2 linked regions of the Homo sapiens genome follow. The protein of the gene in region 1 interacts with the protein of each later gene in a biochemical or structural test. Each region holds a gene or a part of one and is shown in the gene's direction. Other genes may lie near its edges. The genes, in order: SYNJ2 and SYNJ2BP.

Region 1 (16,505 bases):
CTGCCACAGTCGGCCTCCTGTGCTCAGATCCGTGTCTGACACGCTCACGTGTGGAACAGACCATTGTACTCATGCCCCGCCATGTCCTCCAGATGACGCGGACCTGGTGGAGCTCAAGCGGGAGCTGGAAGCCGTCGGGGAGTTCCGCCACCGTTCTCCGAGCAGGTCTCTGTCGGTCCCCAACCGGCCTCGGCCACCTCAACCCCCGCAGAGACCCCCCCCTCCAAGTAAGACTCTGCTTGCTTTCAGCTCCCTGGATGCCTGCCAGGAATAACCGCGCGTTCCCTGCTACTGAAAACACGGCTCCGAATCCACTTCTCCCCGGCCTTCCGGTCCCCACAGGGCTTCCTCCTCCTTGGGCTCCGTTTTGTTGTAAATCCAGGACACGTTTGACGTCAGGGCTGGTTGTGTTTCTCATGGCAAATGAAACAGCTCCTTTCCAAAGCTGCTGTTCACCCTGGAGCTGTGCTATTGCTTCAAACTGCTCTCCCTTGGCAGCATTAGAGGATGCAGAATGGGGGCCGCAGCCATGGGAGGGACGTGAGCTTCGCAGTCAGAAGTCTCTCCTCAGCTGCTGCGCAGTCCTCCCTCTACTTATGAGGAATCTGGTAAACCCAGGTCCCCGCCTGGAGGTGACCTGGTCACCCCTCTGCGCTCCGAGGCCTCCTGTTCCCCGGGCTCAGAACAAGTTCCCCCTTATCCTGGGTCTAGGAGCATTTTCTTCTGGTTGTTCGAACAATGCTTTGCCCGTCCAGCCCTCCCTGATAACCTGAAAGCAAAGCTGTGATGTGCTTTTGATCCACTTGCATTTTCCCACCACTGTTTACTTCTCCCTCCCCAAAAATGTGATGATCAGACTTAGATCTTCCTAAGCCATTACTTCAGAATTGGGCTCATTGTGGCTGACGTCACGGTAGTAACCAATGGCAAGCCACAAGCCCAGATATAAAAATAACCCAAAAATAAAATGCATAAGTCATGTATTATTGTGGAAATTTTAGAGATAACTACAAAGAAGAACAAAATTTTAAAATTCACTTGATGACCTACGGGTCGTAGTTGTTGAAAAAAGTCTTCTTTTTCCAGTTTCATGTATCTGCAGCAACATACTTCTTTTTTTTTTTTTTTTTTTTTAACAAAATTAATACCCATTTTCTCTGGTCGGTTGTCTTTTATTTAATGGGTTATATTTTCTGTGTCATTGAATGTTCTAAAACATGATTTGTTAATGGCTGCAAGTATATTTTAACAGTTTATTCCCCTGCTTTGGAATTTTTTTTTTTTTTTTTTTTTTTTTTTTTTTTTTTTTTTTTTTTGAGATGGGCTCATTCTGTCCCCCGGGCTGGAGTGCAGTGGTGCGATCTCACAGCTCACTGAAGCCTTGACCTCCCCGGCTCAAGCAATCCTCCTACCTCAGCCTGCCAAGTAGCTAGGACTGCAGGCGCATACCATCAGGCTTGGCTATTTTTATTCATTTATTTATTTATTTTGTAGAGACAGTTTCACCATGTTGCCCAGGCTGGGGTTTTTGAAATATTTTTTCCCCACAAAATATTTTAAAAATCTGGTCCTAGCAATAGTATTTGGAACCATTTCAAAATCAATTGGTTTTTATATCAGATCTGAATCCCCCAAGATGTTAAAGTTTGCATTCTAGTAATGCTTCTCCAGATCATCTACATCAATAGGCACACACTGGTAGAATCAAGTGAGAAACTCCATAGAGAGTCAAGGAAGGCCTGGCTCTGTGGGTGCCCTAAGTGCCGAGTGAGTATTCGGACCTCACCGTGTCTGTGGTCTGCTGGGACATCCGCCTCGTCTAGTCGGGCTCCTGGCAGCTGGCTGGGAAGTTGTGCCTTCACTGAGATTGAGACTCTGCCCTCGTTGGTTTTTACAGCCGGTTTAATGGTGAAAAAGTCGGCTTCAGATGCGTCCATCTCCTCCGGCACCCATGGACAGTATTCAATTTTGCAGACGGCAAGACTTCTACCAGGAGCACCTCAGCAACCTGTGAGTTCTTCTGCATACATTTCAATCCCAAGGGTTTTGCCCCCGGGATAGTGTGGGATCTCTCTTCTCAGTGAATATATAGATTTATGTGTCTTTAACCCTCTACCTGCTCACCATCTCATCTCCAAACCCCATAACCCTTCCTCGCAGGTTCTCCATAGGGCTTTTAAATGGTTGTATGGAGTGTTCTAGAAAAAATCACTTTTGATGAAAAATCCCAAATATCCCTGGTTTCCATACTCATCCATTTCTCTCTCTTCCCATTCTTGCCTCTGACCTTGGTGTATGGGCAGAGCATTGCTTGGTAGAAGGGAAAATGGGAGAAATTCAGGTCGTTATCCTGGGAAAATGATGATCATTCTGGAGTGAAGTTGGTTGAGAGAAGAGGCTAAAAAGAGATGTAAATAATGAAGTTGGGGAACACACTAGGAAGACTAACAGCCATAGAGGATTGTGGAGGTGCCTGGTTCCAGAGGGTACCATGAGCTGCTGGGGAAGAGAGCAGGTGAAGGCAGGGAAGTAGAGGGGAGAGAGGGGAAGCTGGGTGCTAGGGGGAAACTGCTATGACCGGGATGCCTCTGGGGTGCTGGGCCTGGTTAAGTGCTTGTGCGGCCCCAGCAGGTGGAGGGGTGACTGGAGGCCAGTGTTTTACAGTAGTGAAAATAGGTCATAAAGGCAACCCACATGCTGGATGAAGAAGTAGAAAAAGCACTTTTAAGGAAGGTATTTTAACAACTCAGTGGGACCATGGAAAGAGTGGCCTCTTATTTTGCTTTCTGGCTTTCACCTGGTTATTGAAAAAAAGATAGAAGATGGTCTGTCCATATGCAAAAATCTGTAATCACCCGGCTTTGAAGACCAGGGTCATCAGGTCTAAGTAGTATGGCACTCTTGGAAAGAGAGTGCTCCAGGAAAGAGAGGATTGCAGGGTGTGGTGGAGGCTGGAGTTTGTATGGTCAGCATCGTCTGGTGGAGCCCTGCACAGACCCACGGGTAGCAGATACGTCCCACGAGGCTGTCCTCCTGCCTCTGCTGATACTCTGCTCTTCCTCATTCTGTCCTCAAGCCCAAGGCTCGGACTGGAATAAGTAAACCTTATAATGTCAAGCAGATCAAAACCACCAATGCCCAGGAGGCAGAAGCAGCAATCCGGTGTCTCCTGGAAGCCAGAGGAGGTAGGTGCTTTCCTGGGGGCAGGGGAAAAACCAATTCTCCTTTTCTTTTTATCTCCCTGCTAAAAGTGGTCTAGAAACGAAAATAACTCTTTTTATTCTTCTGGAGGCAATATTAAATGAAAACATCCTTTAGCAACATTTTATATAAATCTATACTAAGATTGATTGTCCATTTAAAATTGTATTTTCAAAATTCTGTGTGTATATAAAAATCATCCCAGGGCTATTAAGCGGCGTCTAAAGGAGAGACCGAAAAAAACCAAAATGAGTTTTTAAAAAAGGTGAATGCTGCCGGCATGAAGTCATTCTGCCAGCTTTATAAAACAGAGACAGTTATAGTGTTTGTCCTAATTTCAGGCACAAAATCTACCTTTTAAATCACTGGCAAGTGGAAATAAAGTTTTTAGTGTCAGGCAGGGACCTCTTTCCCACCACATTATTTTTTGTTGCTGTTACTTAAACCATGTTAGTTACCTTGGGCTCTCCCCCACTTCATTCATAATCACTGGTAATTTACACTTTTAGTTTTGGCCTTGGCTTTGTTCCAGAATCTCCTAGAGAGGAGAGTGTGCCCTTTTCTTCGTTTTTTTTTTTGTTTTTTTTTTTTTTTTTTTTGAGACTGAGTTTCACTCTGTCAGCTGGACTGGAGTGCAGTGGCTCAATCCCAGGTCACTGCAACCTCCGCCTCCCAGGTTCGAGCAAATATCCTGCCTCAGCCACCTGAGTAGCTGGGACTACAGGCGCGCAGCCCCATGATGAGCCAATTTTTGTATTTTCAGTAGAAATGTGATTTCACCTTGTTGGCCAGGCTGGTCTTGAACTCCCAACCTCAGGTGATTCATCCACCTTGGCCTCCTAAAGTGCTGGGATTACAGGTGTGAGCCACCACACCTGGCCGAGTGTGCCCTTTAAAAAGGTGTAAGCAATCACCATTGCTTAATTTGCTTTTAGTCAGCATGTTTAACTTCTTTGGAATTCTCAAATAATATTTAAGGGGGCATGAGTTAAAAGGTCGAGAACTACTGTTGTAGAATGATACTGCTACAAATGCTTTCTTTTTTTTTATTTTAGAAAAATAACTAAAACTAGGCCGGGCGCGGTGGCTCACGCCTGTAATCCCAGCACTTTGGGAGGCCGAGGCGGGTGGATCACGAGGACAGGAAATCGAGACCATCCTGGCTAACACGGTGAAACCCCGTCTCTACTAAAAATTCAAAAAATTAGCCGGGCGTGATGGTGGGTGACTGTAGTCCCAGCTACTCAGGAGGCTGAGGCAGGAGAATGGCTGAGCCCGGGAGGTGGAGCTCGCAGTGAGCCAAGATTGCACCACTGCACTCCAGCCTGGGTGACAGAGCAAGACTCCGTCTCAAAAAAAGAAAAAAGAAAGAAAGAAAAATAACTAAAACTATGGATATAACAACCCAAGTGTCCATCAGCTGATAAATGGATAAACAAAATGTGGTCCATCAATACAATGGAATATTGTTCAGCCATTAAAAAAAAAAAGAATGGGGCTGGGTGCTGGGTGCAGTGGCTCACGCCTGTAATCCCAGCGCTTTGGGAGGCCGAGGCAGGCGGATCACGAGGTTAGGAGATCGAGACCATCCTGGCTAACACAGTGAAACTCCATCTCTACTAAAAATACAAAAAAATTAGCCGGGCGTGGTGGCACGTGCCTGTTAGTCCCAGTTACTCGGGAGGCTGAGGCAGAAGAATCATTTGAACTGGGGAGGCAGAGGTTGCAGTGAGCCAAGATAACGCCACTGCACTCCAGCCTGGGTGACAGAGCTAGACTCTGTCTCATAAAAAAAAAAAAAAAAAAGAATGAAGTGCTGATACATACTACTTCATGGGTGGACCTTGAAGACATTATACTATGTGAAAGAAAGAAAAAAAGGCCACATAGTGTACCATCCCCTTTTTATGAAATGGCCACAGCAGGCAAATTCATGGGGTCAGAAAGTTCTTCTTGCTTTCCAGGGACTGGAAGGAGGCCTGGGTGGGGAGTGGCTGCTGTGGGGCTTCTTTTTTGTGTGATGAAAATGTTCTGGAGTTAGATCGTATGATGGTTGCACAACTTTGTGGATACACTAAAAACCAATGAATGGTACACTTAGAAAGGGTGAATTTCACGGTATGTGAATTATGTCACAATAAAGCTGTTAAAAAAAAAAAAACTCTAGAGATGTAGATGTTAGTAGAGGTGTGAAATCTACCTACAGTCCCGGCTTAACACTTTCTTGGTCATGGCCCCATTGAGATTTTGATGTCTTTGGATCATCTACCCTGAGAAATGTAAGTACACATGAGACTTTGCATATGATCTCAGGGTCTCACTGGTCCCCATCCAAACTATCCACAGACCCCAGATCACCACCCCTGCTAGGAAGGTGAGCATGAAAACCTGGGACTGCTGGGTGCGGTGGCTCACGCCTGTAATCCCAGCACTTTGAGAGGCTGGGGTGGGAGGACTGCTTGAATCCAGGAGTTCGAGACAAGTCTGGGCAACACAATGAGACCCTCTCTCTACAAAAATTTTAAAATTAGCTGGGCGTGGTGGTTCACACCAGTAGTCCCAGCTACTTGGGAGGCTGAGGTAAGAAGACTGCATGAGCCCAGGAGTTCCAGCAACATAGTGAGACCTCATCTCTACTAAAAATTTTAAAAATTGGCTGGGCGTGGCAGTGCTCACCCGTAATCCCAGCTACTCAGGAGGCTGAAATGGGAGAATTGCTCGAGCCTGGGAGGTTGAGACTGCAGTGAGCCGTGATCATGCCGCTGCACTCCGGCCTGGGTGGCAGAGCGAGAGCCCATCTTAAAAAAGAAAAAAGAAAAAAAGCTGGGACTGAATCTAGCTGATTACTCCTGAAATACACTGAATTAGTAAATGACACTTAGGATGTAGACTGTCTAAGGACGAAATCATGCAGTGAATTGCCTTGTCCTTTACACTTCAGCCATGTGGTTTTATGTTTCAGGTGCCTCCGAAGAAGCCCTAAGTGCCGTGGCCCCAAGGGACCTTGAAGCATCCTCTGAACCAGAGCCCACACCGGGGGCAGCCAAACCAGAGACCCCACAGGCGCCCCCACTCCTTCCCCGTCGGCCCCCACCCAGAGTTCCTGCCATCAAGAAGCCAACCTTGAGAAGGACAGGAAAGGTAAAAGCCTGGTAACATAAAACCTCTTACTCCTAAGTTGCTCACATGTCTCGATAGATAAGAATTGTGGCCTGTAATCCCAGCACATTGGGAAGCCGAGGCAAGCGGATTACGAGGTCAGGAGTTCAAGACCAGCCTGACCAACATGGTGTGAAACCCCGTCTCTACTAAAAATAGAAAAATTAGCCGGGCGTGGTGGCGCACGCCTGTAATCCCAGCTACTCAGGAGGCTGAGGCAGGAGAATCACTTGAACCCAGGAGGCAGAGGTTGCAGTGAGCCGAAATCGTGCCACTGCATTCCAGCCTGAGCAGCAGAGTGAGACTCCACCTCAAAAAAAAAAAAAACAAAAAAAAAAAAACAGATTTGCGTCTCACAGATAAAAATCTAGTTCCCTATGGACATCCTCACGTTCATGAGTCCCAGACACAGGTGTGTCTTTGGGGAAAGTTTTGACAACTGCTTCTTCCCTCATATCCTACTGTGTCTTGGCTCTGGCTGAGAAGAACGAGGAGTCCACTGTCTGGCACATTGTCAGTGTGACAAGAACAGCTTGGAGGTATTATGCTTCCTAAGTGTTTTGAGTCCCCAAAGGGAACCATAGTGGGATGCTTTTCCCCACATGTTCTGGTACCGCCCATTTGCGTGTGGTCTGTGTTGTGTGCACATGGTTTCAAGGCATTAGGAAAACAGTAACCGATTCCCAGATTCGCCATGTTCACATGCTCTCGTGCGGCCTCAGCCTACGAGAGGTTCCACAGCTTTTCTTGCCACTTTTCTTGCAGATTGTTTTTTGCTCTCGCTCTCAAGCTTCTCAGCCTTGCTTACTGCTTCAAAGACATGAGTTTGTAAGGACAGTAGCAGCCCAAAGACTGGCATCTGTAGACACATCTGGATCTTCCGTTTGATCTCAGTGTTCTAGTAACGGACCCTCGGTAATCCCTTCCTGGTCATCACAGCACGATGCTGCTTCCCCCCTAGAGAGTGTGAGGGGGGCTTCGGCTTCACTCTTGACAGCGCTTGCTTTGTATTTCCTGGGTTGCTCTTCTGTCCCACATTGGCTCATTGCCATCTGTCCCTTGTCCATGCTTCCTTACAAAGTGGACCTTTTTCCTCCGCCTCTTCCCTGTTCAGATGCTCCTCGACTTAAAATGGGGTTACATCCCAATAAACCCATCGTAAGTTGAAAAATAGCGTGTCAAAACTGCATCTCATACACCTAACCTAGCAAACGTCATGGTCTCGCTGACCTTGAACACACTCAGAACACATACATTAGCCTACGGCTGGGCAAAAAAAAAAAAAAAAAAAAAAAACACCCATCCAACACAGCCTATTTTATAATAATAAAAATAAAAGATCAAACTTCAAAATTCAAAGTATGCTTTCTACGGAACATTAGCGCTTGTGCACTAGGGTGAAGTGGAAAATCCTCAGTGGAACCATTGTAAGTCGGGGACCACCTGCTTTGTCTTTTCTTGTAAAAGCCAGGAGCAGAAATAGATTCATTTTCCCAACCTGCTGCACAGGAGTTAAAGTTAAAAGGCTGTTGGAAAAGAGACTTTCTTTTTTCTTAGTTTGTTTTCTAAAGAACCAAAGAAACACTGAAACGCCAATGTTTAACTAGTCTACTGATCACCTTTTCTGAACAAAAGCTTCATTTTGCCTGTGCAGTTGTTTTCTTTGTGATAGATTTGAACCAGAACCAAGGCAGTGTCAAGGTTTCCATTCTTTACCAATATTTAAGTATAAAAGATTCAAGGAGCTGGGCGCGGTGGCTCACGCGTGTAATCCCAGCACTTTGGGAGGCTGAGGCGGGTGGATCACCTGAGGTCAGGAGTTCAAGACCAGCCTGACCAACATGGTGAAACCCCGTCTCTACTACAAAATACAAAAATTAGCCAGGCATGGTGGCAGGCGCCTGCAATCCCAGCTACTCGGGAGGCTGAAGCAGGAGAATCGCTTGAACCTGGGAGGCGGAGGTTACAGTGAGCTGAGATTGCGCCATTGCACTCCAGCCTGGGGGACAGGGCGAGACTCCTTCTCAAAAAAAAAAAAAAAATTCAAGGAGAAAGTATATCCATTAGTCCTTCAGTTAGCTTATGTTGTAACACAAGTTACTTCACCCTAGCATGATACAGACCATGAATCAGCCCAGGTTGCAACTTCAAAGAGTGTTTTCAGAGAGGTTTGCTTTCAATAAAGGAAGAGCATCACCCCATTTCCTAAAGGACAAAGAAAAGTTTGTCTGATTATTTACTGTGGCCCTGGTTTTAAATTTTCCACTCGTTTTCATTGGACCTGCTGGTGTGACCTGATAAATGTGTGTTTCTCCTGTGCTTTTTCTTTTTCTTACCTGGTCACATTTCTGGCACCCCACACATTCTCAAATCTCGAATTTGCTAGAATGTCAGCTTGGTCTCATCTCTGTTCTCTGCTGGCCACTCTGTTCTCTGATCCTCAGCTGCCTAGTTATTGGCTTCTTATTTACACTCTTTGTCCCACCTTTTCTCAGCCCCTGTCACCGGAAGAACAGTTTGAGCAACAGACTGTCCATTTTACAATCGGGCCCCCGGAGACAAGCGTTGAGGCCCCTCCTGTCGTGACAGCCCCTCGAGTCCCTCCTGTTCCCAAACCAAGAACATTTCAGCCTGGGAAAGCTGCAGAGAGGCCAAGCCACAGGAAGCCAGCATCAGACGAAGCCCCTCCTGGGGCAGGAGCCTCTGTGCCACCACCTCTGGAGGCGCCGCCTCTTGTGCCCAAGGTACCCCCGAGGAGGAAGAAGTCAGCCCCCGCAGCCTTCCACCTGCAGGTCCTGCAGAGCAACAGCCAGCTTCTCCAGGGCCTCACTTACAATAGCAGTGACAGCCCCTCTGGGCACCCACCTGCCGCGGGCACCGTCTTCCCACAAGGGGACTTTCTCAGCACTTCATCTGCTACAAGCCCCGACAGCGATGGCACCAAAGCGATGAAGCCAGAGGCAGCCCCACTTCTTGGTGATTATCAGGACCCCTTCTGGAACCTTCTTCACCACCCTAAACTGTTGAATAACACTTGGCTTTCTAAGAGCTCAGACCCTTTGGACTCAGGAACCAGGAGCCCCAAAAGAGATCCCATAGACCCAGTGTCAGCTGGCGCTTCAGCTGCCAAGGCAGAGCTGCCACCAGATCATGAACACAAAACCTTAGGTCACTGGGTGACAATCAGTGACCAAGAAAAGAGGACAGCACTGCAGGTGTTTGACCCACTGGCAAAAACATGACTGAGCAGCTTTGAAGGCTGCAGTCCTATAGAATGCATACCTTCCTCCCTCTAGACATCCCTCCACCAGAAGAGACATCTATTTAAAGGCACACTGGCCAAAACGTTTGTGCATCTGTCACTCTCGTGTAGTTTACAAAAATCGTGTCTCTTATTCAGTAAGATGGTTACTCAGCCACCAAAATATATTTCACTCAAGGCTTGTACATCTGAAGTTTGCTCTTCAAGGAATGGGAACCTTCCTGTTAAATTCGGTGTATGGATTTTAAGAAAGGAATCTAGCCAATGAGGTCCAAGAAGTTCTCACCCATTGAATTTTTAAATGGCTGTTCAGTTCATGTTGTACGTGATGGAGATTTGTCTTTTGTTTTATTTGCATTTTACAGATTTGGTATAACATTTTGGGGAGCCACCTGAAGGTTGATGTATAAAGTAAGGATTAGAGAAAGAGGTCGTTGTGACCATTAGTAGCTGTCCTGGCCCACTTAAACAAGGTTACAAAAAATCAGAGTCGGAAGCAGCCAAATAGGTCAACCTAATGACTAGACTGTACATTCCCATGAGCCTTCATGTTTAAGTGTGTACATGTGCGTTAACCTTGATGATGCGTGAATCCCGAGGGAGCCGGTGGCATACACCGTTAGCTTAACCTTAGCTTAAACTAGCTGAAGGCTCCTGTGCCATGTCTTAGACATTGCATGCCCTATCAATTACTATAATCCTGAGCCATGGTGTGCTACTGAAACCAATTTTTATCCACCATCTAGTCCTTATTAAATGAAACCTCACGGATCCTTTGTTCCGCTTATATTCCATGCATACCACATAAAAGCACACAGTGCGAAAACTCTTGCTGATACGCGATATTGATTCTCATTGTTAGAATATGGAGAGTGTTTCAGCCTCGTCTGTCCGGCTGGAGCTTCGGGATGGAAAGTGCTATGTGTCCCTGCATATAAGAATCACCAGGCCAGTGTTTCTGGGTTTGCTTGTCTATATGTTTGTCTATATTTTTTGCCTATACATTTTTCCCACGTTTCCAACAGCACTTCTCACCTATTCAATAACTGAAAAAGACATTACCATAGTGCTTTACATTTTTAAAGTAATGTTACAAGGTCTGGAATCCATTTGGAGCAGATACCGTGTTTTCGCTATTTAATAAGAAGTTCAGTAGTGAAATCTTACTGTACCGCCTGTTGTATCTGGGAGCCTCGTACAGAGGCTCGCACAGCAGTGATCAAGTGTCATCCCTTACGTGACTGGGGGATGTCTGTCCTAAAAGCTGACTGCTAGGATAGTAAGGATCATCTTGCCTGGGCTATGCCACTGTCTTGTTACCAATTAGACATCTGGAATTTCATAATTAGTTTTCATTGTCACTGTCAAGATATATTGCAGATTACTTAAATATGGCCATCAAAACAAAAGTTACAACACGTATCTCTTTTCATCTGAAAACTAATACCTGGAAAAGGATAAAAAAAAAAAGGAATCCGTGACCCACAGAGCTAGACAGATAAGATGCATAGTTGACCAGTCATAAAAGGCGGTGTTTAGGTGATCAGGATGCCGTTGGTGGCATTTACGTGCTTTATATGATTTTTACCTCTGTAACAAACACAAGAAATAAACAGAATGGTCCTTAACAGAGTTTGGGGGAGAGAGCAAGATGGGTTCCTTGGAGAAGCTGATTTGCCAAGATGCACATCGCTATTAACAGCCAGAGTCATAAATGAAATGAAATTGAAGAATTCATTCAAATGCTCTTTTCCCTATAACCTCTTTTCTCACCAAAAAGGAGATAAATTTGAAAACAGATAAATGTAACAACCAGTCAAAGAAGCAGGGGAAAAGTAAGCTCCTCCAAAGTTGCTTGCAGTGCTGGAAATAGATCTCATTTTTAGGTTTTCTCTTCGTTCCAGATACCAAATAAATGGGACAGAGAATAAAATTTTTGTTAAAATATGTGCTCATCTCCTAAGTAGCTCTTCAGAGTCTGACCGTAAGTAAAAACACACAGAATTGTGTTGACTGGGGGAGGTGAATCACAAAAAAGTTACGAGGAGTTTAAGAGTTAAATATTATTTGATCGTGGCTGTCAAATTTAGTGAACAACATAGATTGGATTTGGAGTTGGTAGTAGGTATGGTTCTCATACCAGAATTCTCTTAAAAAAAAAAAAAAGGACAATTGGAATTGCCTTATTTATTTTTAAAATCAATGCTTACTAGTTGGTAGGATTCCCAGGTCAGCAGCAGGGTTGATTAAATAATCTTGACAATGAGCAGCTGCCATCTTGGGGGATTTCATTCTGTGGTTTTTTAAATGTTTCGTCTTTGATGCTACCATCCAGGGCTTCTTATTGTGACCTTGTAGCCTATTTTGTTCCTGCTGTTCTCTAACATGGTGCAGTTCACGCAGACTGGTTTAGGTACTTCACAACTCACCATTGTCTCTCTGACCCCAAGCCTAGTCCCTTTTACATCACCATCTTCTCAGACTTCTTGCCTATTCTTAAAATATGTTTTGGTTAATGATTGAATTAGGACATCAGCTTAAGCAATTCCTGTAACGGTTTAACGTTGTTGAAGTTCAAGGCACATAATAAAATTCTCCCTGATGTGTGTGTAAGTATAAACAAAGTAATGTATCAAAGCGTTCACTTTATAATGAAGTCATTTCATTGGGAAGGAAAGCTGCAAAGATTATTGGGGGACTAGTGATTAATAAAATCCTGTAATATTTTTGAAGTGAAAATTTGTACTGAAATTGTACATGATACCTATTAAATGTTTTTGTCTTTTTTTAAATTGGGTTTATTTCTTTTCAGATATGAAGAGAACCTTAGAATATCTTTGGCTACCTTCTGTTCTGGATCAAATGTAATTACTGGTTATTTAGTAATTCCTCTTGAGTTTCGGGTTTTGGTTTTTTGTTTTTTTTGTTTTTGTTTTTGTTTTTTTTGGAGACAGTCTCACTCTGTCGCCCAGGGTGGAGTGCAGTGGTGCGATCTTGCTCACTGCAACCTGCAGTGAGCAACCCGGGTTCAAGCAATTCTCCTGCCTCAGTCTCCTGAATAGCTGGGCTTACAGGCATGTCCCACCATGCCTGGCTAATTTTTTTGTATTTTTAGTAGAGACGGGGTTTCACCATATTGGCCAAGCTGGTCTCAAACTCCTGACCTTGTGATCCGCCTGCCTAGGCCTCTCAAAGTGCTGAGATTACAGGTGTGAGCCACTGCGCCCAACCGGTTCGTTTTTTTAACTATTAAATTAAGTTCAAAAACCAGAAAAGTAATCATCTGGTTAAGAATTTATGACTTGAATGCTGCTAGCAGGGAATACTGCCATAACATATAATAACTTTATGCTACTTAGAGATGCTAGAATTCATTTTCTGTACGATTTTATAGCAAACTTATAAAAACTGAACTGCTAGCTTGAGTCCATTACAGCATAGAAGCAGGAGACGGAAGTAAACACTTCAAGTTCTGTCTAGGTTTGCTCTAAGCTAATTAATACAATATAGATCATAAATGTTCTCTGATGATTTTCAGGAATAAGAATAAATCTCTAATAAATATGGCTAGTCCTTCCTGACCAGTAAGGAGGCATATTGAATTTACTAAATCTGACAGCCGGTTGCAGAAACTTCCTTTTCAAGGGACTGGGGGAGATAGGTTTAAAACGCACTCTCATCCAAGGCAAATTGTTTGCATTTATCTCAATGAGGTAATAAGAGTACAAATGAGGCCAGGCACGGTGGCTCACGCCTGTAATCTCAACATTTTGGGAGGCCAAGGCGGGTGGATCACCTGAGGCCGGGTGTTTGAGACCAGCCTGGCCAACATGGTGAAACCCTGTCTCTACTAAAAATATGAAAATTAGCTGGGAGAGGTGGCACACACCTGTAATCCTCAGGAGGCTGAGGCAGGAGAATCCCTTTAAGCCCAGGAGGCAGAGGTTGCAGCGAGCCGAGATTGCACCACTGCACTCCAGCCAGAGTGTGACTCTGTCTCAAATAAATAAATAAATGAGTATAAATGAGAGAGTAATTGTGAACAGACAGGGAAGATTTGGGAGAAGAGTATTAAGAATTTTGGGCCAGGCACGGTGGCTCATGCCTGTAATCCCAGCACTTTGGGAGGCCGAGGCAGGCGGATCACGAGGTCAGGAGATCGAGACCATCCTAGCTAACACGGTGAAACCCCGTCTCTACTAAAAATACAAAAAATTAGCCGGGCATGGTGGTGGGCGCCTGTAGTCCCAGCTACTCGGGAGGCTGAGGCAGGAGAATGGCGTGAACCCAGGAGGCGGAGCTTGCAGTGAGCTGAGATCGCGCGACTGCACTCCATCCTGGGCGACAGAGTGAGACTCCGTCTCAAAAAGGAATTTTGAACTATTTTTTTAATTAATTATATTTTCAGAGCTGTTTTATGTTCACGGCAAAATTGCCCAAAAAGTAGAGTTTCCATATCCTCCCTACCCCAACACGTGCACAGCCTCCTCCACTATTGACTTCCCCCCACCAGACTGGTACATTTGTTTCAATCAATTGACTACATTGGTACATCATCCTCCCAAGTCCATAGTTTAGGGTTCACTTTTGGTGTTGCACATTCTATGGGCTTGGACAAGTGTATAATGACATGGATCCACCATTGCATTATCATGCAGAGGAGTTTACCGTAAAAATCCTCTGGGCCCCACCTATTCATCCCTCCTTCCTCTCAATCCCTGGCAACCACTTACCTTTTACTGTCTCCATGGTTTTTCCCTTTCCTGAATGTCATAGAGTTGGAATCACACAGTATGTAGTCTTTTCATGAGTGGATAGCTCTTTTTTTTCAGTGCTGAATATAATCCATTGTCTGGACGTACCAGTTTATCCATTCTCCTACTGAAAGACACCTTAGTTGCCTTCAAGTTTTGGCAATTATGAATAAAGCTGCTATCAACATCTGTGTGCATGTTTTTGTGTGGACATAAGTTTTCAATTCATTTGGGTAAATAGGAAGGAGTGTAATTGCTGGATCATATGGTAAGAGTATGTCTGTAAGAAACTGCCAAACTGTCTTCCAAAGTGGCAGTACCATTTTGCATTCCCCCCAGCAGTGAATGAGAGTTCCTGTTGCTCCACATCCTCACCAGCATCCGGTGCTGACAGCATTTTGGGATTTTGGCCATTCTAACAGGTATGTTGTGATGTCTTAATTTGCAATTTCCTAATGACATGATATTGAACATCTCGTATGTTTGCCATCTGTGTGTCTTCTTTGGTGAGGTATCTGTTCATATATTTGGCCCAGTTTTTAAATGGATAAAGTTCATTTTCTTACTGTTGAGTTTTAAGCGTTCTTCATACATTTTGGATAACAGTCCTTTATCAGATACATCTTTTGTAAGTATTTTCTCTGAGTCTGTGGCTTGTCTTTTGATTCTCTTGACATTGTCTTTTTGCAGAGCAGAAAGAGGATTAAGAATTTGAAAAGTAACAGAGTCGATTAATAGAAAGGATGTTAGTCAATGGTAAAGATAATTTCAGAGGACCTATAGTTTAGGATTTTATTCTGTGTATAACAGAAGAAGTTGTTTGTAGAAATATCTGAATAAATCTGTGTGGTAGAATGGTTAAGGTTATAGGCTTTGCCTGGGATAATAGCAGCTCTTCAAAGCATCTGGAATATAGTTTAGAAATGGTATGAAGTGGACCCAACAGCTTCTTCCTGAGGGACGCCTATACAATGACCATTTGTTAAGTAATAAACCATTGCTCTTGCTTCCCGAATTAGGTTTCTCAAGGGGTTATTCAATTTTATTGACATTTTCAAAGAACACCTTTGGGATTTATATATCCTTTCTATTGTTTTCTTTTCTTTTTAGAGACAGGATCTCACTCTGTCACCCAGGCTGGAGTGCAGTGGCATGATCATAGCTCACTGTAGCCTTGACCTCCTGGGCTCAAGCAATACTCCCACCTCAGGTCCCAAGTAGCTGAAACTATAGGGGCTTGCCACCATGCCTGGCTAGTTTTTTGTATTTTTTGTAGAGACAGGGTTTCACCATGTTGCCCAGGCTGGTCTCGAACTCCTGGCCTCGAGCAATCCTCCCCCCTTGGCCTCCCAAAGTGCTGGGACTACAGTGCAGTGGTTCAGACCTGTAATCTTAGTACTTTGGGAGGCCGAGGCAGGCAGATCACTTGAGGTCAGGAGTTCAAGATCAGCCTGGCCAAATATGGGAAAAACCATTCTCTACTACAAATACAAAAATTAGCCAGGCATGGTGGTGCATGCCTGTAATCCCAGCTACTTGGGAGGCTGAGGTACAAGAATCGCTTGAACCCAGGAGGTGGAGGCTGCAGTGAGCCAAGATTGTGCCACTGCACTCCATCCTGGGTGACAGAGTGAGACTGTCTAAAAATATATTTTTTCTTTGTATTTTTAAACATCTTTCATTAATTTTTAACTTTAACTTGGATCTGTTTTGTACTTTTACTTTTGTTCTTTTCCTAATCTTAATAGTAGAACTGGGTTTTCATTTTTGGTCTTTCATAGTTAATAATAAAGATATTTAATTAAAGTTATACATTTTCCCTTGATTTTAGCTTTAACTGCACCCTATACATTTTGGAATGAAATTTCCTCCTTGTCATTAATTGCTAGATTGTAATTTGTCGTTGCGTTCTCTTTGATCCATTGGTTATTTAGGAGACTGTATAATTTCCAAATAGTTAAGGGTTTTTTGTTTTTATTTTTGATTTTGGGTTTTTTGTTTTTTTTTTTTTTGGCATTTTAAATTACTTAGCCCTAATTTTATTGGCCTGTGACCTGAGACTATGACCTAGAAAACCATCTACTTTTAAAAATGTGTTAACGTTCGATGTGGCCATGTGGAGGATTGAT
Region 2 (15,597 bases), on another chromosome or scaffold:
GAAAAACATGTTCTTCCCTTCTACCTCATACATTGTGAGATTACAGGGGAATAGAGAATGAATGCTGAAGAAATAGAGGTAGTGCATGCAAACAGTTCTTAGAACAAATTTAGCAGTCAAAGAAAGAGGAAAGAAGATGGGAGGAGAGTGATAATGCGTTCCAAGAAATAGTTGTATTGTTTTCTTTATAGAGGTGTATAATTTTAGTTGAGAGAAGGAGCAGAGAAAGATAATAGTTAAGTAATCAAGAAGACAGAGTGTCTGTGAGTTTTGTAAGGAGGTTAGAAGAAGTATGATCAAGATCATCAGTGGATGGTTTCACCTTGAAAAGGAAATAGATCTAATTCAGAGACTAGGGGAAAGGAGTAGTGAGAAGATATAAAGAAACTTTGAGGGAGAAGGAAAGAAAATGTAGAAAGCATTTATCAGAAGTCCTCAGTGTTCTCACAAAAGATAAAGGAATCAGCTAGGGAGAGAGGTAGAAATGGGGTTGGAGACGGTGGTGGAAAAAGGTCTGGAACAGCTATCACTGCGTGTTTATTAAGGAGTTCAGCAAATGAGTAGAAGCGGTTTTAAGGATGAGCTGGAGTCAGCTAGTATGGGTCTATGGTGGAGAATGAGAATATACCTTTCTCCCAGAATATTCAACTTAATGATGGCAAGAAAAGGATTGCAGAATATGGCCCAGGACTGGAAAGATGGCAGAAGATCTTGGGGACAAAGGATTCTAATGATTTACCAAGTGCTTTGTTGAAATTACAACAGGAACTCCTAGATGGGCAAGGATGCAAGTAAAGTCTAAAAAGGTTACAAGGAGGAAATTCAGTAGATGAATAGAAAGTATGAAAAGAGTGGAAATTGTTGTCAGGTTTTTAAGAGTTTGAGATATTGGAGCTGAAGCATGTCTAATATTGAAGTCTAAGTTTACGTCAATTGGTGACTGAAGTGGAATGGAGTTGGAAACTATTGGTTTACAAAGGTAGACTGTCTATAGGGCAGAAGTGTTGGTAGATTCATTCACCAACTGTATTGGCAAGAGAGAGAGTAGAGGGAAGATTATGAGTGCCTTGGAGAAGGAAGATTGCGACAAGGAAAATGAGAGAGTTGAGTAAGGGAGTGACTTGAGCATTAGCTGAGCAGAGGATAGTTGGTGAGTCAAGATGGAAGAATAACAGTGCAGAAGGAACAGTGAAATGCAAGGACACTTTGATCTTTCTTTCATTATTTACAAATCCTAGCCCTAGCTCCAGCACAAATCTCACTGAGCTTCAAGTTTCTTTATCTGTGGAAACGAGATAAAAATAATGTCTACCTCATAGGGTTATCATGAGAATTAAAAGAGATAATGTATGTAAAGTACAGAACCTATCAAAAGAAATATATCAGATGTTCTTATTGCTGCTACTGTTAACGATGACATTGACAAGTATAAAAGATATGTAATCTTGCACTAAGTGGGCTGTGCTGTGTCACTGAATACAGCATAGGATAGATAGATTATTACTTGTGGCCGATGTCACTCCTAACTGCAAAAAGTATTAATACAAGTATTCCTTCACATCTCTCACCTCTAAGTGGTAGGAGTGACCTACACTGAAATTTTTTTAAGGATTTATATCATCACAGGAATATGGTTTTTACTAAGTTTTGATTAAAAAATGACTAATTTACTAATTTGGATATAATGGATAGGAGTATCCGTGGAATCACAGGAAGTTGTTCACTATGAAAAGCCCAATAGAATGGGCTAGTATAGATTTATATGACATCAAAATAAATTGGTGGAGAGTTTCATAGAGTTATATTTCTACAGTTGCAGCTGGCAATGCCAGGGCTTAGGAATATAAAGGTTAGGGTGGTAACCTGGAAGACCATGCTATCTTTAAGGAAGCAGGTTAACACTCATGGAAGAAATGCTAATACGGTAACAGATTCCCAAGTGTCAAAACGAGACAGGCATAGAAGCTAAGAGGAAGGAGAGACCACTTTTTATTTTACATAGGTTCTCTTCAGATGGCCTGTGGAACTTCAGTTCTAGGAAAACATAGTTTTGAAAATGAAAAAAGTTCTAAGTTCTGAGCTCTAAGTAACTTTGCCCATACTCCTAGTCCTTGCAATTTGCTCTGAAGGAGTTTGTTATTTAAAGTTTGGCCATTTGAAAATAAATTGTTGACTTCTAATAGCCTTCTTCCTTTCTTACTACTCTTTGGTGTTTTGACAGGTAAATGGCCAAGACCTAAAGAACCTGCTGCACCAGGATGCTGTAGACCTCTTTCGTAATGCAGGCTATGCTGTGTCTCTGAGAGTGCAGCACAGGGTAGGTATCACTTTGAGCCAGAAACCTGGCACCAGGCTTTTGCACTGTACTTCTGAATAAGCCCAATGTGTGTAATCTTCAGTGTTGCTTTTTGTTTTACCCTCACTCCCCTGAAGAGTTTCTCAGGCAAAGGGAGGGGTCCATTGGTACTTCTGCTTATCATTGAAGGACATTCAGGCCAGGCACGGTGGCTCACACCTGTAATCCCAACACTTTGGGAGGCCAAGGTGGGCGGATCACTTCAGGCCAGGAGTTCGAGACCAGCCTGGCCAACATAGCAAAACCTCATCTCTACTAAAAATACAAAAAATTCAGGCACGGTGGTGCACACCTGTAGTCTCAGCTACTTGGGATGCTAAGGTGGGAGGATTGCTTGAGCCCAGGAGGTAGAGGTTGCAGTGAGCCAAGATCATACCACTATACTCCAGCCTGGGCAAGAGAGTGAGACCCTGTCTCAAAAAAAAAAAAAAGAAAAAAAGAGAAAAAAAAGAGAAATTCACAACAGTATGGCTTATAACCAAGGTCCTTGCTTCAAGATAATATGCCTTAAAGATAAAGCTTGACAACCAAATTAAAACAGATGATTAAAGAAAAGCCAGGTGTGGTGACTCACATCTGTACTCTTAGCACTTTGGGAGGCCAAGGTGGTATGATTGCTTGAGCCCGGGAGTTCAAGACCAGCCTGGGCAACATAGAGAGACCTCATCTCTTAAAAAAATAATAATAAAAATAAATAAAAAATTTTAAGAGTGACATGGACCAATGGAAAATAAATAAATTAATTAATTAAAAAGATGGTAAAAAAACGTAGCCAATTTTACTTTTTGGTAGGGAAGGAACCATATGTCTACCGCTGAAAACTTATTTATAAAACCATTGGATAAAACACTACAAAGATGGTGGGTTTTCTGGTACCCACTATATGCTTTTCCCTGTCACTGCCATGAACCCTTCATTTATCAACTTGGTGACCCTCTTAACCAAATCTTTAGTGTTCATAGGAGAACTCCAGGAAAAAGGAAATGGAATTCAGAATTCAGTCAAGGCAGCACCTATCCCTGCATCTGTTTCTTATTTCCAAGTGTTTTATAATTTGGATGATGATGTAAAGGGAAGCCTGGGTAGATATAATTCCTCCTATAGCATTGAGAATTTCTGAGCATATTCACAAAACAGGTTCCATGTGCCTTTAAATTAAATCAATTTGCTACTTCTTAAATAGGTGCACTCTTCCTCACTCAGTGGCTAAGGATTTAGAAGCTTAAGAACATTTAGAGGAGTTCCTAAAAAAGTAGAGAAGGCAGAACGTGAAAGATACCTGAGAAAACAACCAGTTGCAAGCAGAATCTGGGTGTAATGGATTAGAAAACAGGTTAATAAGAGATAATATTGGTCATCAGTTGCTTCTGCCTTGGCTCTTCTCTTTCTAAAGCATGGGAGCATTTGTGCAGTAGATAAAAACAAGTAAATATAGGGACACACTTCAATATGATTACAATTCTTTTGGAAGGTATGTGAGAAGTTATTTCCAGTGTTCACTTTTAAGGAAACATCCATAAATAATTCCTAATAAAAAAGACCCTTATGTTCAGGCAATTGGCCTAGCCCTAAAAACCATGCCTTCTTATTGAGCATGTCCTTTCAGGACAGCTCATCAGCAAATGAATGAAAAACATAGAGGTGGAATAGAGGGTATAATGGTATTTCATGCAGTCTTGCCTTTCAGATTGAAGTGTCAGTTTTATGAGTTGTAATGAGGCAGTTTAACTGAAATACGATGATGCCATAATTATTGCAAGTTAGCCACTAAAAGTTGATATTAAGAAGAGCTACCCTGAAAACCATCACTAAAATGAAGACCATCCAGCCTCAAAAGGAAACACTTAGCCAATAGAAAATTATAAGCACTAGGATATAATTTCTTTTTGCTTTTTTACATCTGTTCCATATAGATTCACCTTCATCTCTCTCTAGTATTAGAAATGAGCAGATGAAGGGCAAAACCCCATCTTTGGAGGGAGTTGGGTGCCTTCTGGGATCTGGAAAGCATTTTTCAAGTAATGGCATTGGACGTATGTTGGTATTGCACCTATGTTGACATTGCCCACATCTGCTCTTACTACATTTTGATGACTGATTATCTAAGTAAACATTTCCAGAAAGATCCCCCTTCTTCCTCACCAAGTAATATCCAAGTTCCCTATAAGATCATAGGTTTTATCTCATGTCTTCATTTTCCTGATACGATACACAAATAGCAAGGTAGAGGCAGTACAGAAACAGAAATTACCTGACTTGCCCTCACGGGTCCCTTTAGGTCAGCAAGGTTAAATGCCTCCCCATTAGACCTATTTTCTTTCCAAAGATCCTGTGACACTGATGCATCAGCTCAGGACAAAGAGAGGACTCCTTCTGCTAGGTATTGCTGGGGGTTACAGTTTTGGGTGGTCTAGAGTCTACAAACCCAGGTGATGTATCAACCTGGGCGTTTCAGTTGCAAACACACATTAGTCACTAGAGTTAACATTTTTCTTTCCCTTCCAGTTACAGGTGCAGAATGGACCTATAGGACATCGAGGTGAAGGGGACCCAAGTGGTATTCCCATATTTATGGTGCTGGTGCCAGTGTTTGCCCTCACCATGGTAGCAGCCTGGGCTTTCATGAGATACCGGCAACAACTTTGAAAAACTTGCTCTCTTTCAATACTCCCAATGAAGATACATTTCACTCACCCTCCACCCCTGCTATTCTGCCATGTCTTTCCCTCTCTCTGCATAGCCAGATTTGAAGTGACTGATACCCACCCCAAACCTTGCTGTTCACAGTCTCCAATTCTTCATATTCTAATGGGAAAGTAAAGGTATTGTTTGAAGGAAAACTGAAGAAAAGACTTGGCTTAGAACAAATGAGGAGTTATATATTTTACTAGGACTTTTGATAGAAATTCAGCTACAACCCAAAGAGAGAAAGATTGAGTCTTCCTGTCACCATAGGCAATACCTTTTTTCTTAGCTGGCATGCCATAAAGGCCAGCTATGTGATATTAGAGGAAGAAAGGATTTTTCTTTTTAATGATCTTCCTTGGGAAATTATTGTGGCCTTTATTTAATTTCTAACTACGTACCTGGGTGCCTATATCGACAAAGAGTGAGAAGAGCATTTTTACTTTTTTAAAAAAGCAAATACATATATACACATACGTATGCAAATATTATAGTATAATAGTGATCCCTATGGAGAATTAAAGGTGAGAAAGCTACTTTGTGGTGTCTAGGTTTCTGATAAAAGGGATGATCTTAACTGAAGAATTTAAAGAGATACTTAAACAGAGCAAATGTAGTAGGAACAAGGGAGTGAGCCTTATAAGAGGACGTTCAGTCTCATTTATTAAAATAATAACTGAGACTGGGAGAGGTGGCTCATGCCTGTAAATCCCAGCACTTTGGTAGCCTGAAGTGGGAGATTGCTTGAGTCCAGGAGACCAGCCTGGGCAACATAGCAAAACCTCATCTCTATTTAAAAAAAAAATAGAAAAAAATGTAATAACTGAAGCAACTAATTAAAAATCTTAGAAGAACAATATTTATTCTTATAACAGCCAACTATGGTGAGTTATTATAAGGTAAATTGCCATAATCCAGCGCTGCTCACATCTAAAAAACTTTGAGGTGTAAAGGTAAATCGTACCAATCTCTGGGCTGCCCTAGTGACTTTTTTGATACCTCAGAGTCCTATTGAAGAACCAGGTGGAATGATTGTGGTAAGGGCTATAGTGCTGGAGCCAAACACCCCAGCAAGAAAACTCTAAAAGGACAAAAGATAAGGTAGTGCCTCCAAGGTGGCACCTGAACCCTCTCAGGCTACTTTTTGGTTTCTACTAACAAACCTGAGGGAAGGAACTGCCTCCCTGGCAGGATGGGCATCAAATCAACTCTGGCTTCAGATTTAGTTAAAATGAGGCCGGGTGCAGCGGCTCACACCTGTCATCTCAGCACTTTGGGAGGCCGAGGCAGGCAGATCACAAGGTCAGGAGTTCAAGACCAGCCTGGCCAACATGGTGAAACCCCATGTCTACTGAAAATACAAAAATTACCTGGACATGGTGGCGCGTTCCTGTAATTCCAGCTACTCAGGAGGCTGAGGCAGGAGAACTGTTTGAACCAGGACCTGGGAGACGGAGGTTGCAGTGAGCCAAGATCACGCCACTGCACTCCAGCCTGGGCTACAGAGCAAGACTCCATCTCAAAAAAAGAAAGGCATGGATTGCTAGTATTTTTGAAAGGCTTTATACACTACATACGGCTTTTAATAAACCTTTTTGCAGCAAGAGGGAGGAAAAGAGTTTTGTTTGCTTTAGGAGGTAGGGAAATGTGGTAGGTGTTTCATGCGGCCTAGGAGGAGGATATGAATGAATGGATACTATGGAATGCCAGTGATCTCGATAAGGTGGGAACCATCCTGTTCATGTTCTTTTAAGGCTGGTTTTAAGCACTATGGGTAGCTGAATTTTCTGGCTTTAAGAAAATCATTTCCATTAGCCAAATATATTGGCCATACTATAGGCCTTTTATAATTTTGTTAGCAAGATTATCAGGACTCAGGCAATCAACTGTATTTCATTTCTAGCTTGGACAGTCTGGTAATTAAATGTTGATTGGACATCAGCTTTGTCAAGACACTTTTACAAAGAAGTACAGTGCATATCCTCCATCCCATAGGGCTTTTGGGTTCCAACTGCGAAGACAACACTCTTATTGGCCACATAGGTAGGACAGTGTAAGTAGGGGTCATGTTTATATTACAGACAGCAAAAGAGAAAAGTTACTGAGAACTGGGGCGTTTGAGAAAGTTACGTGGAGGAAAGGGACAAGTTGAAGACCCTTAAGGGCCTCACAGCCTAGTTAAGAGAATTCATAAACAGGTGAGAAGTTAAAAGTATATCAGCAGGCTAAGTATTGAAAACAATATTAAAGGGGTACCATGCAAAACACGATGCAGCAACAAAGAAGATATGCAGGTAATCATCACATTTTCTTTTAGAAATTCAGGGAAAAAAAGATGTCACATAATGGCATCAGGCTCAATTGGAAAGGGAAGGCTTTTGAAAATAAGAGGTCCGGTAAGACCTTGCCTCTGGGTCACTACTGGTATAGGGAGAAACTTGCTTTAAACAGTCCTGACATAAAGTGCCTTTTGACATCAACTATTCAATACCTTTGAGACTCACTTAGACAACTGGACTCATTGTAGGTTCCACAGAAAAACACGGACAACATTCTAGTTGTCACTCCAACCAGCCACACTAGGAGGGCACAGCCTCTGGTACCCTTTCTGTTCCTGAAGGCATGTACAGCGGCTTCTACAGCAAGCTTGCTTACCTCCCAGGATTCACCTCATGGTTTGGACACTGATTCCTGAGAGAGCCTTGAGACACACAAAGTGAAAAAAATGTCAAGCAGGAATGAAAGCTCTAGTTTTTTGCTTGTTGGTATATGTAAATTTGTTTAAAAAGTATCCATTCTGTCGTTGGTAGAAGTTTTGCTTTGGTTGATAATAGAGATTCTGATGTACTCTTATAACTTAGGTTTTCTCAGAAATTAAGTAGCATTGAAGATCAATGTAATACAGTTTTAAGCAGGTACACTAATTATATTATTGATTCTATAGAAAACTAAAATTATAGATGAGGTATCAGGATCCATTATAGGTTGTAAAAAAATTCATGTTCTTCATAGATTGAGTCTAATATTTCTTCTATAGATTGCATCTAATGTTCCTACTACCTAAATTATTACGTTCAAAGTTTTGAAAATTGAACGAAGGTATTTTTAAGTACTTAAAACATTTCTCTATCATTCTGTATTACATGTATAATTATAAGATATTGTTTGCTTCAACTAGCTGTACTTTGTTTTCCTGTGAAGTTTCAACTTATGTGTTATCGATTTAACTTAATTGTTCCATCTAGCCATGTATAATGGAAAAAGGAAGTTAATATTTGTTATTGTGTTCTATGCCAGGGACTGTACCAAACTCTGATTGGTACATTATTTCATGTCTCATAACTCTGGGATCTAAGTATTGTCACAAAGAGACTAAAAATGAGAGAAAAAATTACTTGACTAGGATTATGTAGGTGGTAATAATAGAATCAGGATTTAAACTCAGGACTTCAGATGCCAGCATCAATGATATTCTCTCACTGGAAGTGGTTCTCAAAGCAAGGTCCTGACAAAAGCATCAGCGTTACTGGGGAACTTGTTAGAAAAGCAAGTTCATAGGCTGGGCATGGTGGCTCATGCCTGTAATCCCAGCACTCTAGGAGGCCTAGGCAGGTGGGTCACTTGAGCTCAGGAGTTTTGAGACCAGCCTGCACAATGTGGTGAAACCCTGTCTTTACTAAAAGTCAAACAAATTAGTGGTGCATTCCTGTAGGCCCAGCTACACGGGAGGATTGCTTGAGCCCAGGAGACTGAGGTGCAGTGAGCCGTGATTGCTCCACTTCATTCTAGCCTGAGCAACGGAGTGAGACCTTGTCTCAAAAACAAAAAAACAAACAAACAAAAAACAAAAAGCAAGTTCCCAGAAGAGAAAAAAGAAGTTCCAGACCTAGTGAATCAAAAACTCTGAGCGTGGCATCTCACAATCTGTGTTTTTGTAATCCTTCCAGGTGACTGATTCATGCTAAAGTTTGAGACTCATTGCTCTATGCCAGTCATCATTCCCTTTGCTCAGGTTAGAATCATCTGGAGAGCTTATAAACGTCCCCATGCCCAGGCTGCACACAGATCAATTAAAAGGAACCTCTGAGGGTGGGACTCAAGCAGCAGTAAAATAAAGTTCATTGAGTGATTCTGGTGTGCAGCCGCAGTTGAAAATGTTATATAGCATTTAAACAAGACACTATTTAATTAAACACTATTTAAATTATTAAATTACATACATTGCTTCAGGCAAAACAACAACAACAACAACAACAACAAAAACTTGGGCCTTTAGAGCCCAGCTTCCTGAGCTTCTGCACGAAGTAAGTGGAACATTCATTTCTTCCTGATTTGCTAAGGATTGATCAACCTCCAGCAAAATGTATGATTAGTGAGTGTTTCAGTTGGTGCATCAATTAAATGAGAACCAATCATAGAACATTGAAGCTAAAAAGGACCAGAGAGCTTCTAGGATGAATCTGTCTTAGAGATGAGAAAAATAAAGGCTCAGAGAGGGAAGCTAACTTAACTCTGATCAGACTTAGTTTGTTGCAGAAGTGACCTTTCTGTCTCATATTTATGTCTTGAATATATTCACTACATGAATACACAGACTACCCATTTTATCTTAGTCTACTTCTTTCTTCTCTCTTTGGGCCTGAATAAAGACCAGAACTGATAGACAGCTAAAGGATATTGCAAGCATCATTATTGGAATTGGGAGATTCCACAGAACAATCTGAGAATGATCTCATATCAAATCCAATCAGATGAGTTATTCTGAGACTAATTCCAATAGTTCTAGAGACTTTTTTTTTTATGGTGGACATTGTTTTTATTGTGTAAATAAGCAATTTTTAAAGTATATTTAAAGAAATGAAACATAAGGAAGTGTATAGGCTGTCAGGTATGTGGGGAAGTGAAGTTCATGTAGTTTTCATGTGGAGCCCATACAGATTTTATTATAGTCAATTTTAGTGAAATTTATCGTTGGTCAGATGAAGGTTTTTTTCCTTCATTCAGCAAATAACTAATGACTGCCTACTATGTGCTAGGTGCCGAAGATAGAGAGATAAATAACACTTAGTCACTCTAAGCTGAAATTGCTCAGCATATGAAAGTGGAGGAATATTTGTAGGTGATTTTGATGTTAAAGTATTTTTTTAACATCACCTGGTAGTAGAAGATTGAGTTATGAAGCTGTCTACCTCTCACCTGTAATAGTTTTAGAGTTGGTTGCTATTTTGGTGTAAGTCTTTTTTGCTGTTCCTCTTTTAACTGCAAATCTTTTTGAGACCAGCACTCACATCCAAAAGGGCAATTGTGATAAAAAAGAAGACAGTATTTTAAGGATTCTGATCAGAACCAGATTCTTTTCTTTTCTTTTTTTTTTTTTTTTTTTTTTTTTTGAGACGGAGTCTTGCTCTGTCGCCTAGGCTGGAGTGCAGTGGCACGATCTCAGCTCACTGCAATCTCTGCCGCCCGGGTTCAAGCGATTCTCCTGCCTCAGCCTCCCCAGTAGTTGGGATTACAGGTGTGTGCCACAACGCCTGGCTAATTTTTGTATTTTTAGTAGACACGGGGTTTCAGCATCTTGGCCAGGCTGGTCTTGAATTCCTGACCTCGTGATCCACCCATCTCGGCCTCCCAAAGTGCAGAACCAGATTCTTAACTGCCACAGACTCTTGTATTATGTAATTTATATACAGAACACAAAGCACTTGATTTGCTTAACTGATGTACTTGATGATACTATAAAACCTATATTATGAGAAAGCATTGCTCCTTCAAAGGAATCAAGTGATAGCAAACACTCGGTCCTGTTTCCAGGTTTTCCTCACTGTTCATTTTGCCTTTGTTCTTGCAGGGGGAGAATGAAAGGGGCGAGAGCTAAAGTGTGTTGTCAATGCAAGTCAATCCTTAACCAACAATAATTTACAAAAGAACTTTATATTTGCTGTAATCATTAAATTTAGTTACTAATCCCAGGAAAAGGGTTAGTCCTTCCTCCTAGTTTGTAGATTTGCAAATGGAGATGAATAATTGAATCCTATTTTAATCTTTTATCTGCAGTAATCTGGGCTTCTTATTACCGGATATATTTGCATTTTACCTCCAGGCCATGTTAGTTCTTAGAAGATTATTTTCCTCATGAACCCTGTTTTGTTTTGCTTCCTTTCTGCTTCAATTCTAATGTCACATTGCATACCTGGATGTAAACAGCAGTCAGTTTCTCAGATCAAATAGAGCCCTGTAGCAACTTGGAAGACACAGAAGACACACGGACATAAAACTGTATTTATTATCCAGGGAATGTCACTACGGATTAATTATGTTAATGAGGCCATCAAAATCTATGGTAATCTTTCAGGCTTTGTTGTTTGATACCAGATACAGCAAATGAGATAATAATGTGTCTAATTGTGCCTAGCCAGTATTGGTATTTAATAAAACTTTGTCATTGAATCTTTACAATCTTTTTTCACCTTATTTTGAAGACCGTTGATTAAATATCTCATTTTTTTTTCTTCCAGATGAGGGTTTTTTCCTTCATTCAGCAAATATCTGATAAGTGCTTACTATGTACTAGATATTCTTAGGGTAACACCTCTGACAGAATTGTGGAAAGAGGAAGAAATCTAAATGATCAGTTTGAGGCTTTGACATAGGAGATAAGGAACAGGACATTGATATCCTGTTAACAATTATGGAGCTCTTATCAATATTCCAGCTTTTGTTCTAAGGCCTTTGCATGTATAATATTTATTTAAGCCTCAAAACAACTCTTAAGATAACTGCTGTTGTTATCTTCATTTTATAGATAAAAGGCATAGAGAGGTTAAGTAACTTGCCCAAGTTATACAGCTACTAAGTGCCAAAGCTGTGATTTAAACCCAGGCAATCTGGCTTCAAAACCTGCATTCATAACTATAACACCTTACTGTCTCTACTTCCCATGGTACCAGGCACTGCATTAGGCTGCCCTTTTGTATAACTTAATGCCAAATTCTCATATCTGTGCAAGGCAGTGTCAATATTCCATTTTTATAGGGGAGGTAACTTGATGCTTAAAGAAGTTAATAACTTGCTCAAGATACATAACTAGTCAGTTCCAGACCTGGGAATTTACTTCAAGCCAATGAGTCCACTGCCCTTCCACTATTCTAGAAAATTAAGGTTTACTATACTCAATTTGATTCAACCATGCTATCATATCCTTCCATTATGGATAACAGGAAATTGACTGCACTAGGTTAAATGTTCTATAATAGCAGTAGCAGTATCATTGTGTATTTATTCGCAATGTTTGCAAGCAGTTGCCAACATTTACCATCTTACTTGTATCCCCTTCATCCCCCAAAGCCTTATAAGATACATAGAAGGCAGAAGTGGGTTTGTGCCACAGCATGAAAAAGGACTTGTCAGAACTGAATATTGTTGACCTTTATTCTAAGTTAGTTTGCATACAGCTGACTTTGATATGAAGAGAAAAGGCAGTTTACATTGGTCATCATTGCTCCGTCACCCATGTTAAGCAGTTCAGGCCTGAAATCAAATTGGTAGTCTACAGTATGTATAGAATGGCCATGTTCTTTCTTGATAGGCAAAGGTGTGTCAGTTACCAATTATGTAACAAACCACTGCAAAACTTAAGTGGCTTAAAGCATATTAATAATTTTTTAAAAGATTCTGTCAATTGACTATTTGTTCTGCTGATATCACCTGGGATGGTTTTACTAATCAATTCTTGTATTTTTGCTTGTTTCCTATTTTTTTAGTTTAGCTTTTATTTTGGTTAATTCCCTCGTTATGCTTTCCTTTGTTTGTGTTTTTGGTTTTGGGCTTTTTTTTGTTGTACTTTTCCTTTTCATAAGTTGGATATTTGTTTTCAGTTATGTGCAATCATAGGACTTCATATGAAGTTTTTTTCCTTTTTATTAACTGCCATGTAACATAAGTTCTATTTTGATATCCTCCTCAGTTTGGGGGTTATTCAAAATGTTGTTTGATTTGGAAGTGATTATTTTAGGAAATAGATTCATTTTTGAGGCATCAAGTTCCAATTCTATTGGATGTGCATTGTGTTTTGTTTTATAGGAAACTTTGTGTGTACAATGGTATTTGACTAATCTTTTTTTTTTTTAAAACCAGTGGTAGACAATAGATGTTATTCAAGCATTTAAAACAACACAAAACACACATACAGACAGGACATTTTTTAATGGTTTCCTTTCCAGGAAGTTTATCTTGAGATAAAAGTGCACTTCACTTGCTCTCAATTCAAACATTTGTCTTCATATTTCTAAATATAAGTGTTTCTGTAAAGTTTTTTTTAACATAAAGTTCAATAGATAAAATCCTGTTTCACCACTGACTTATATTACAAAAGCACCCATCCACCTACCCAAAAAGGAAACCCTAGTTAATTAACAATATTTATACAGAAAGCTTTCAGATAGGGCTTAACCCTGTGACAACCAGCAGGCTAGAGTTCCTGCTTTGCTCTACCTGATGAAATTTGTAATCCAAGTAATAGTGTACTTTAGGACATTGCCGTTGTCTTTGAATTCCTTTCGGTTTCTTTTGTCTGTCTGTATAGAAGAGACCTCTAGCACTTTTGTATGGAATAGTTACCTTTGATTCTCTCCAAAGTGTTACAAAGCAGATTTTTGTTTGGTTTGAGAATTACTGGCCGGGCATGGTGGCTCATGCCTGAAATCCCAGCACTTTGGGAGGCCAAGGTGGGAGGACTGCTTGCGCCCAGGAATTTGAGACCAGCCTGGGCAACATAGTGAGACCTCGTCTCTACAAAAAATGAAAAAAAAAAAACAAAAAACGCCAGGTGTGCTGACATGGACCTGTTGTCCCAGCTACTCGGGAGGCTGAGGTGGGAGGATCACTTGAGCCTGGGAAGTTGAGGCTGCAGTGAGCCATGTATTCTTCATCCTTCACTGTATAGCATGATATGGGAAGATCCTGCCATTTCCTTGTTTTTGTTTGTTGGTTTGTTTTATTTATTATTATTATTTTTTTAAGATAGGGTCTTGCTCTGATGCTCAGGCTGGTCTCAAACTCCTGGGTTCAAGTGATCCTCCCGCCTTGGCCTCTCAAAGTTCTGGGATTACAGATGTGAGCTACCACTCCTGGCTGCTCCTGTCATTTCATTTGTTTTTCCAGAAAATTATGCATTGTGGTTTTGTACTATGAAGGAAGTCATGGAAAACAGAAATGTATTAGGCATGGTCCTGTTTACCCCATATCTTATACTCCATAAAAAGTAATAAGGCAAATACAGCAATAATTCTAAACTTGGAATGTTCATGATCACTATCATAAGAGAAAGTGCATTAAAGAAGAAACAGTTGATTTTCTGGCTGAACAATATCAAGGACAATTTTAACTGGTTTCAAGTTGGACTGAACTAGACCAACTCTTAGCTACTCTAGTTCTAGCCATAGAAATTAGATTGAATGGAGAAAAGGATTAAAATAAACCTTGGTGGCATGTTGACCTTGAGGTGTTAGAAAATCGTTCAGGCTCCTGGAAGTGTACCAGAAGTCTTCCATGCTGTGATAAAATTTGAAGCCAATGTGAAAGTGGAGTTTACCTAGGGAAAGAGGATGGAGCAGTGGTTGTCAGAGTGTGGTCCTCAGACCAGCAGCATCACCCAGAAGCTTGTTAGAAGGGCAGATTTTCAGGCCCCATCCCTGATCTACTAAATCTGAAACTCTGGTGATGGGGCCCAGCAGTCTGTTTTAATGCTCTCCCAGGGATTCTGGTGCACACTAAAGTTTGAGAGTAACTGAGACAGAGGGAAAAAATGGGACTAAGGACTCCAGTTTAAGGTTTGTAAGTCTGAAGACAACAAAAAGAAGTCTCACCATTGGAGAGGAGCCATGGCAGTGAAACTTCCATAAAAGCCACAGGAGGAGAGAATTTCAAGGAGATAGTCAGTATTGTCCAATTCTACAGGAAATTTAGTTCTGTTTGGGATATTTGTACCCCTTCCAAAGTGAGACCTTGTGTTTGCCTCTTAACTTTTCTGAGCCTTAGTCTGTTAACCTATAAGATGAGTCTGGCATCATGTTCTGCCCCTATCATAAGGTTTTTGAGTGAATCAAATTAGATGGTAAGCCAAGCATGGTAGCACACACCTGTAGTCCCAGCTACTTAGGAGGCCAAGGCAGGAGGATTGTTTGAGCCCAGGAGTTCAAGACCAGCCTGAACAATATAGCAGAACCTGTCTCAAAAAAAAAAAACAATTAGTAGATTCAATGGCATTATCAAAGTAAACAAAGATTCATGAAGTAACTAATCTTTCGATTACCATAGCCATGAATTCTGGCCATAATTCTGCTCTGTTGCCCAGGCTGGAGTGCAGTGGCACCATCTCGGCTCATTGCAGCCTCCACCTCCCGAGTTCAAGTGATTCTCCTGCCTCAGCCTCCCGAGTAGCTGGGATTACAGTCATGCGCCTTCATGCCCGGCTAATTTTTGTAGTTTTAGTAGAGACAGGGTTTCACCATGTTGGCCAGGCTGGTCTCAAACTCCTGACCTCAGGTGATCTGCCCGCC

The links.
Region 2: the proteins of SYNJ2 (region 1) and SYNJ2BP form a complex in vitro, tested with the Homo sapiens proteins (one study listed by BioGRID).

What each region holds. Positions count from the first base shown.
Region 1 is NC_000006.12:158,086,763-158,103,267, forward strand, and holds the end of SYNJ2 (synaptojanin-2), read left to right. Parts: intron 1-92; coding exon 93-227; intron 228-1,897; coding exon 1,898-2,010; intron 2,011-3,076; coding exon 3,077-3,185; intron 3,186-6,163; coding exon 6,164-6,342; intron 6,343-7,125; coding exon of another isoform or gene 7,126-7,248; exon of another isoform or gene 7,249-7,275; intron 7,276-8,855; coding exon 8,856-9,602; 3' UTR 9,603-12,414; downstream 12,415-16,505. UniProt on the Homo sapiens protein: Inositol 5-phosphatase which may be involved in distinct membrane trafficking and signal transduction pathways. May mediate the inhibitory effect of Rac1 on endocytosis.
Region 2 is NC_000014.9:70,362,396-70,377,992, reverse strand, and holds the end of SYNJ2BP (synaptojanin-2-binding protein), read left to right. Parts: intron 1-2,221; coding exon 2,222-2,317; intron 2,318-4,861; coding exon 4,862-5,002; 3' UTR 5,003-11,494; downstream 11,495-15,597. Other genes in the region: SYNJ2BP-COX16 protein, read left to right, coding at 2,222-2,317, 4,862-4,960. UniProt on the Homo sapiens protein: Regulates endocytosis of activin type 2 receptor kinases through the Ral/RALBP1-dependent pathway and may be involved in suppression of activin-induced signal transduction.